2 separate regions of the Homo sapiens genome follow, and region 1 is linked to region 2. The links come from fine-mapping of genetic effects on gene expression. Tissue or cell type: whole blood. Region 2 holds a variant in brackets; the other region holds the start of a gene. All regions are shown on one strand. Distances are from middle to middle.

Evidence for each region. PIP is the estimated chance that this variant, and not a neighbour inherited with it, causes the effect.
Region 1: it holds the start of APLP2, and the variant in region 2 is fine-mapped to the expression of APLP2 in whole blood (TOPMed, PIP above 0.99).

The regions. Positions count from the first base shown.
Region 1 is chr11:130,068,738-130,071,489 of GRCh38, reverse strand. APLP2 (amyloid beta precursor like protein 2) reads right to left here and starts at 1,596. Exons shown (of 17, transcript NM_001142276.2): 1 at 1,408-1,596. The coding sequence starts at 1,512. It overlaps LOC107984432 (a long non-coding RNA gene), which reads left to right and starts at 1,841. Exons shown (of 2, transcript XR_001748444.2): 1 at 1,841-2,026; 2 at 2,377-2,752. RefSeq lists silencers at 708-1,167, 1,238-1,367, 1,758-1,987 and enhancers at 1,904-2,404, 2,405-2,752.
Region 2 is chr11:130,048,219-130,050,970 of GRCh38, reverse strand. No RefSeq gene overlaps it. Among named protein-coding and RNA genes, the nearest start is that of APLP2, 20 kb to the left of the region's middle. RefSeq lists a silencer at 1,351-1,551. The variant A/G (reference allele first, on the strand shown) is at 1,394.

The sequences.
Region 1 (2,752 bases), 21 kb before region 2:
GCTGTTTTCATGCGACATATCAGGGATCACAGATACAACTCTGACCATTGTGTGGACACACTGAAACAATCGCAATCCAAAATCCTCTGTAGATAAACGTTAACTATTTCTCTTTAAAGCTGAACTCCTTTCTTACCCTCACAGTCACAAAGCTTTAAACTGGATGAATACAAAGGTGTTAAGCCGTTCCATCAGAGAGGCTTTTTATTAGATTTATTTTTACCCGTGGAAATACTTGAACATTCTGTAGAAGTAAATATATTCTAAACCTGAGGTCTTTAAAAGAAAGCTCTCAATTAATGCCCAATCAAATCCAGTCTTCAGGTCTCTCTGAAATTAGCTAAGTATGCAGAAACCAGTTGTAATTTTTAAAAGAGCGAAGAGGGAGAAGAAATAAACGACACCAGAACTACACATTCCAGACCAGCAGTTCAAGCACCACTTCGAGAAGGGAAGTAAAGATCAAGCTCGCCGTCTCCCTCGGCCACAGCAGGGCTCCTCCAAGGCTGCCCGCTCCGGCCCGCACCGCGGACCCCGCCGCCCCCGCCCCCTCCCGCGGCCTCCCCAACCCCCGGCCCTGCCGCTTCGCCTTTCTCGCAGCGGGGATGCTCAGGGTGCGACCTCGAAGCACAACCACTGATGGAATTCTGACACCCGAAGAGGACGATTTTTCCAACAGTTTACACGCCTTCGCGGGCACCTTCCCTACTCACTGAAACCCTCACGAAAGCGGTCAACGCACCCAGAGCGGGTTTCCTCGGTCTACGGACGCAGGCAAACAGCGCCACTTAAAAAATGCGCGTCCGCGACCCGGCCCCAGGCGGCAGAGGGAGCAGCGGGCGGCCTGGCGCGGGAGCTCCCCCGGGGCTCGCAGCATCCCTGCCGCGCGCGAAGGCCGGGGCCGCGTCCACCTGGCAACAAAGGCGAAGCCCGCCGCTCGCAGGTGGGAGGCCCGGAGCCGAGGCCCCGGTGCCGCGCGAGGGAGCGTACGGGGTCCGCGCGGGGCCGCCCCTGGAGAAAGCCCAGCCGCGGACTCCGGCGGGAGAGGAGCGCCCTGGCATTGTCCCGGGGGAGGGCGGGGCGGGCGCCCGGGGGCACTGGGTCCCCGGAGGAGGTGGCGGCGCCGCGGGCGGGTTGGGGGCTGGGTCGGCCGAGGCGGACGGCCGCCCCCAGCAGCCCCGACGCCTTTCATTTGGCCTCTGCGGCGGCTGAGGCAGCCCGACCTCCAGCGCTAAGCACTGCGCCAAGCAGGGACGGGCGGGGGAGGGCGCGCCAGACCCGCCGCAGAGCCGGACCCCCGGCGCCGCACCGCCGGCCCGCCCTGCCGCGGACCCCGCTGCCCGCCCGCAGTCCGCGCTCCTCCGGCGGGCGAAGGAGACGACTCTCCGGCGTTCGCCCGGTCCCCACCTCGATGTAGCCGGCCAGCGCCAAGGCAGGCGCCGTGAGCCCCACCAGCAGCAGAAGCAGGAGCCTGCCCGTGGCTGCGGCGGCCGCGGTCCCGGTGGCCGCCATCCCTCGCCGGGTCGCTCTAGCGCGCGGCTCTCAAGCTCACACACTCGGACTCCTCGCTTAGCACACCGCGACCCAGAAGCATCTAAAGCCAGTTCGCCGCCGCCCCGGGGGTTTTACACCAACCGGAACTGACTTCATATTACCACGCCCTCCTTCTGCGGCTCCCAATGCCGGCCCGCAGAACCCCTCAAGACCCCGCCCCCTTGCGGTCCAGACCCAATCAGGAGATGGAAGAGCCTGCTCCTCCCGCCCGGTCCAACCGCGCGCCCCCCGCCCGGCCCCGCCCCCGGCCGCGGATGGCCCCGCCCCCGCTCCGGACCCTGTGGCCGCCAGGCGCGGGGGCGTGCGCGCGGCGGGTCTGGGGCCGCAACCCTGTGGGCGCGGGGCTGGCTCTGGCCTCCGCCCCCCGGCGCGGTTATCTGTCCCTGCTGCGCTGGTCCGTCAGCCTTCAGCCTCCCGATACGGGCACGCCCCGCTCCCCTGCCCCTGCTGGGCATTCTTCAGACTCCTTTGGGTACCGCCCTCTTTTTGATTCTGGAAATGGTTTTATTAAAAACAGGATGAATTAGGAGTCCGGGACGGTCTGCCAAGGGCCGTCCCCCGAGGCAGGGGGAGGACCGCAGGAGGCAGCCATCGTCCTCCCCCGAGCCCTACTCAGGGCGCGCCTCTCCCGCCCTGCTCCGCCCAGGCCTCTCCGCCGGGTCCTCGCCTCTGAGTCCGGCCGCGCTCCGCACCCTTGGCCTCCGGTCTTTAGGCCTCTTGCCGACCCTTCCTTCCCAGCAGTTGCCCAGGCAGGGATAGAGACCAGGGGTGCAAGAACCACGCCGGCCTCACAGCCCAGGCCCCCTTCCTCGTGTGTTTTAGGAAGAGATCACGCCGCTTCTTCGGTTGAGACGCACTAGCGGGAGACCTGCTACTCTGCCTTCCTGCTCCGCGGCATTGCCACTTCAGTAGAGAAAAACGTCCTGCTGCCCCATTTAGCAATTGGCACAGCCTCGCCACCGCCAGGGCTCCGCTGGCCTTGTTTCCTTTCAGTCGCCTGTGAGTTAGGTACTGCCTTCTGAGAGACCTGGACTAGTCCCTTCAGGTTCAACTAAATGCATAACACAACCCTACCCCCAGGACGCTGACAATAGAAAGGAAGAGACTGTCCGCGGAGTAGACGAGTGCGCCTGTAAGAACTCGGGATTTTCCAGCCTTATTCTGCACCACTCTCCCCTACATGCCCAGTTCCCTGTGG
Region 2 (2,752 bases):
CTGACCCTAAATAATATGTTCAACAACTGATACTATTGTAACTAGTAACTCTGCATGGCTAACTTAAATCAAAGAGGCTTCCCAGATCCCCTTGCAAGCTCATTATTGCTACTACAAAGAGGCAAAGATGAGGAGCTGGGAATGATGATTAGCCCCTAGTGAGTTAAGAGAAGCTCATGATGACAGCACGCCATGCTAATATTTGCCTGGCATTCAGGAGAAGACATAAAATTAAATTAAAATGAAACAGATTTATATCCTTTACCTCTGAAACTCTGAAAGTATAAGATTAAAGTTGTCTTAGGGGGCCCGAATAAGCTGCCTCTTTGCTTCTAAGGAGAATTTCAAGTATTGACCATGTCTACCAAAGACTTCAATGGTTTGAGATTTGGTTACCCTAGTGACTGCCTGCTCCCTCTGCAGCGCTGCAGTCATCTGAGATCTGGCAGGGCACGTCTCCTTACAGTTTCCCAGTTCCACCAATGGAAGAGGGAACAGAAACAGCAGAGGCCTCTTCATGGCAACTCTTGTTTACATAACTTTCTCCTCACTCCAATTCTGGGGAAGCCCCTAGTGTGGCTTCTTTGAGAGTTTTGGCCAACATCTATCATTCTTCAGCTGCCCTCTCCATAAGAGATTATTTTGTGAAAGCTGCTTTATAATTATTTAAAATGGCTTAATGCCTAAAGCACACATTTATCATCTGCCAAAGGCTTTTATAGTTTTACATAACTTGCTCAGTGTTTTTAACTTTGTACTTATGACCCAAGGCAATTATTCCAAAGGACATAGTTTTATTAATTGAAATAATAAATACTTTATAGATGTTCTAATAAAATGTGGTGATTTAAAGTTTAAATGGTGTACTGAGTCATTCTAGAATACCCACAAAGCCCACCTCAGTAAAAGCCAAATGGAAAAATCTAGAGGGAGAATGAAACTAATGAAAAATTCGATAATGGTACACTAGGTGAGATCACAGAAACCATGGGGAGAATTGTAAGAGAAGTCTCATGGGTTTTAAAAAGACATATCACCAGAAATTTCATTTGCTAATTGCTTTTCCTTGATTCAAAGATTAGCAAGTGTCAATATAGCTCCTTGCTGTGTCTTTCAGTAGAGCATGTCCTCTACAAAAGTAGGAGTCGTTCTGAACTGGACCACTCACTGGCCTTAGGTAGTCACTTAATGCCTATTGGCTAATTTCCTGCTCTCTATACTCTACATCTATTACTTGACCATTAATTTTCTTTCCAAGAAGGAAACACATAGATCCAGTAACTAGAAGTTTAAGAATGAAACTGCATTCTCTATGACATTTGCCTCAAACCTCTAAACTCTTTCACAAATAAACATAAAAGGAAGCTTAGATGGGTGGATCTACTTCTGTCTC[A/G]TGGTGAGGGCTTTATCTGAAGATGTTACAACATTCTCATTTGGGTGGGTCATGGAAAAATAAGTAAAAGATTTTATAACAGCTCAGAGGTGTAGGCCAGGACAGCTTGGGTGGCTGACCAGAAAGAACAGTCTCCAGGGAAAAGCAGAGAGGCCTCTGAAAAGCTCTGTCTTCAACACTCATGTATTACCCAGTTTCCTCATCCAGAGTTGCGCCACTAAGGGTTTTGCCTCTCCCCTCCTCTCCTCTCCTCTCCTCTCCTCTCCTCTCCTCTCCCCTCCCCTCCCCTCCCCTCCCCTCCCCTCCCCTCCCCTCCCGTCCCCTCCCCTCTCCTCTTTTTTTTGTGTGTGACAGTTTCACTCTTATGGCCCAGGCTGGAGTGCAATGGTGCGACCCTAGCTCACTGCAACCTCCGCCTCCTGGGTTCAAGCGATTCTCCTGCCTCAGCCTCCCAAGTAGCTGGGATTACAGGCATGTGCCACCATGTCCAGCTAATTTTGTATTTTTAGTAGAGATAGGGTTTCACCGTGTTAGCCAGGCTGGTCTCAAACTCCTGACCTCAGGTGATCTGCCCACCTCAGCCTCCCAAAGTGCTGGGATTACAGGCGTGAGCCACTGTGCCCGGCCAAGAGTTTTTTCAAAACTGGGAGGCAGGTGGGAAATTTGGAAAGCTATAACTGTAGCTGCTGCCACGTAATTACAGACCAGAACTACCGATCGTGATTTCCAAGGTGGAGACATATTCCATATCTGTGCACCAAAACAGTAGCCACTAGTCACATGGGACTATTGAGCACTTGCTTGTGCCTTGTGTGACTGAGAAAGTAAATTTTTTTTTTCTTTTTTAATTTTTGTAGGGGCGTGGTCTCAACATGTTACCCAGACTGGTCTCCAACTCCTGAGCGCAAGCAGTCCTCCCACTTTGGCCTCACAAAGTGCTGGGATTACGGCATGAGCCACTGTGCTTGGCCAAAGAAGTGAATTTTAAATTTTATTTAATTGTAATGAATTTTAACTTAAATAGCTACATGCAACTAGTGGATACTGTATTGGGCAGTGCAGTTCTAGACTTTCAGGTGACTTGTCTAGATACTGGATGCCAAGCCCCAATTTCTTTACTGGTGGAGTACTGCAACTTTCACTTTAACCAACTCTTGAGCTTGAACCCAAAGTAAAAGAAGGAGGTGGCTGAAAAGTGAAAGGGTGGAGAGAAAAAAAATACCCTAATCTATTATTAAGGTGGAAGGACGACATGTATACAATTCTAAACCAAGTAGATAAAAAAGAAAAATGTAGTTGATCATCTCAACATTTGATATCTATACTAGACCAACAAACAATTTTGCTTTTTTTCTCCCT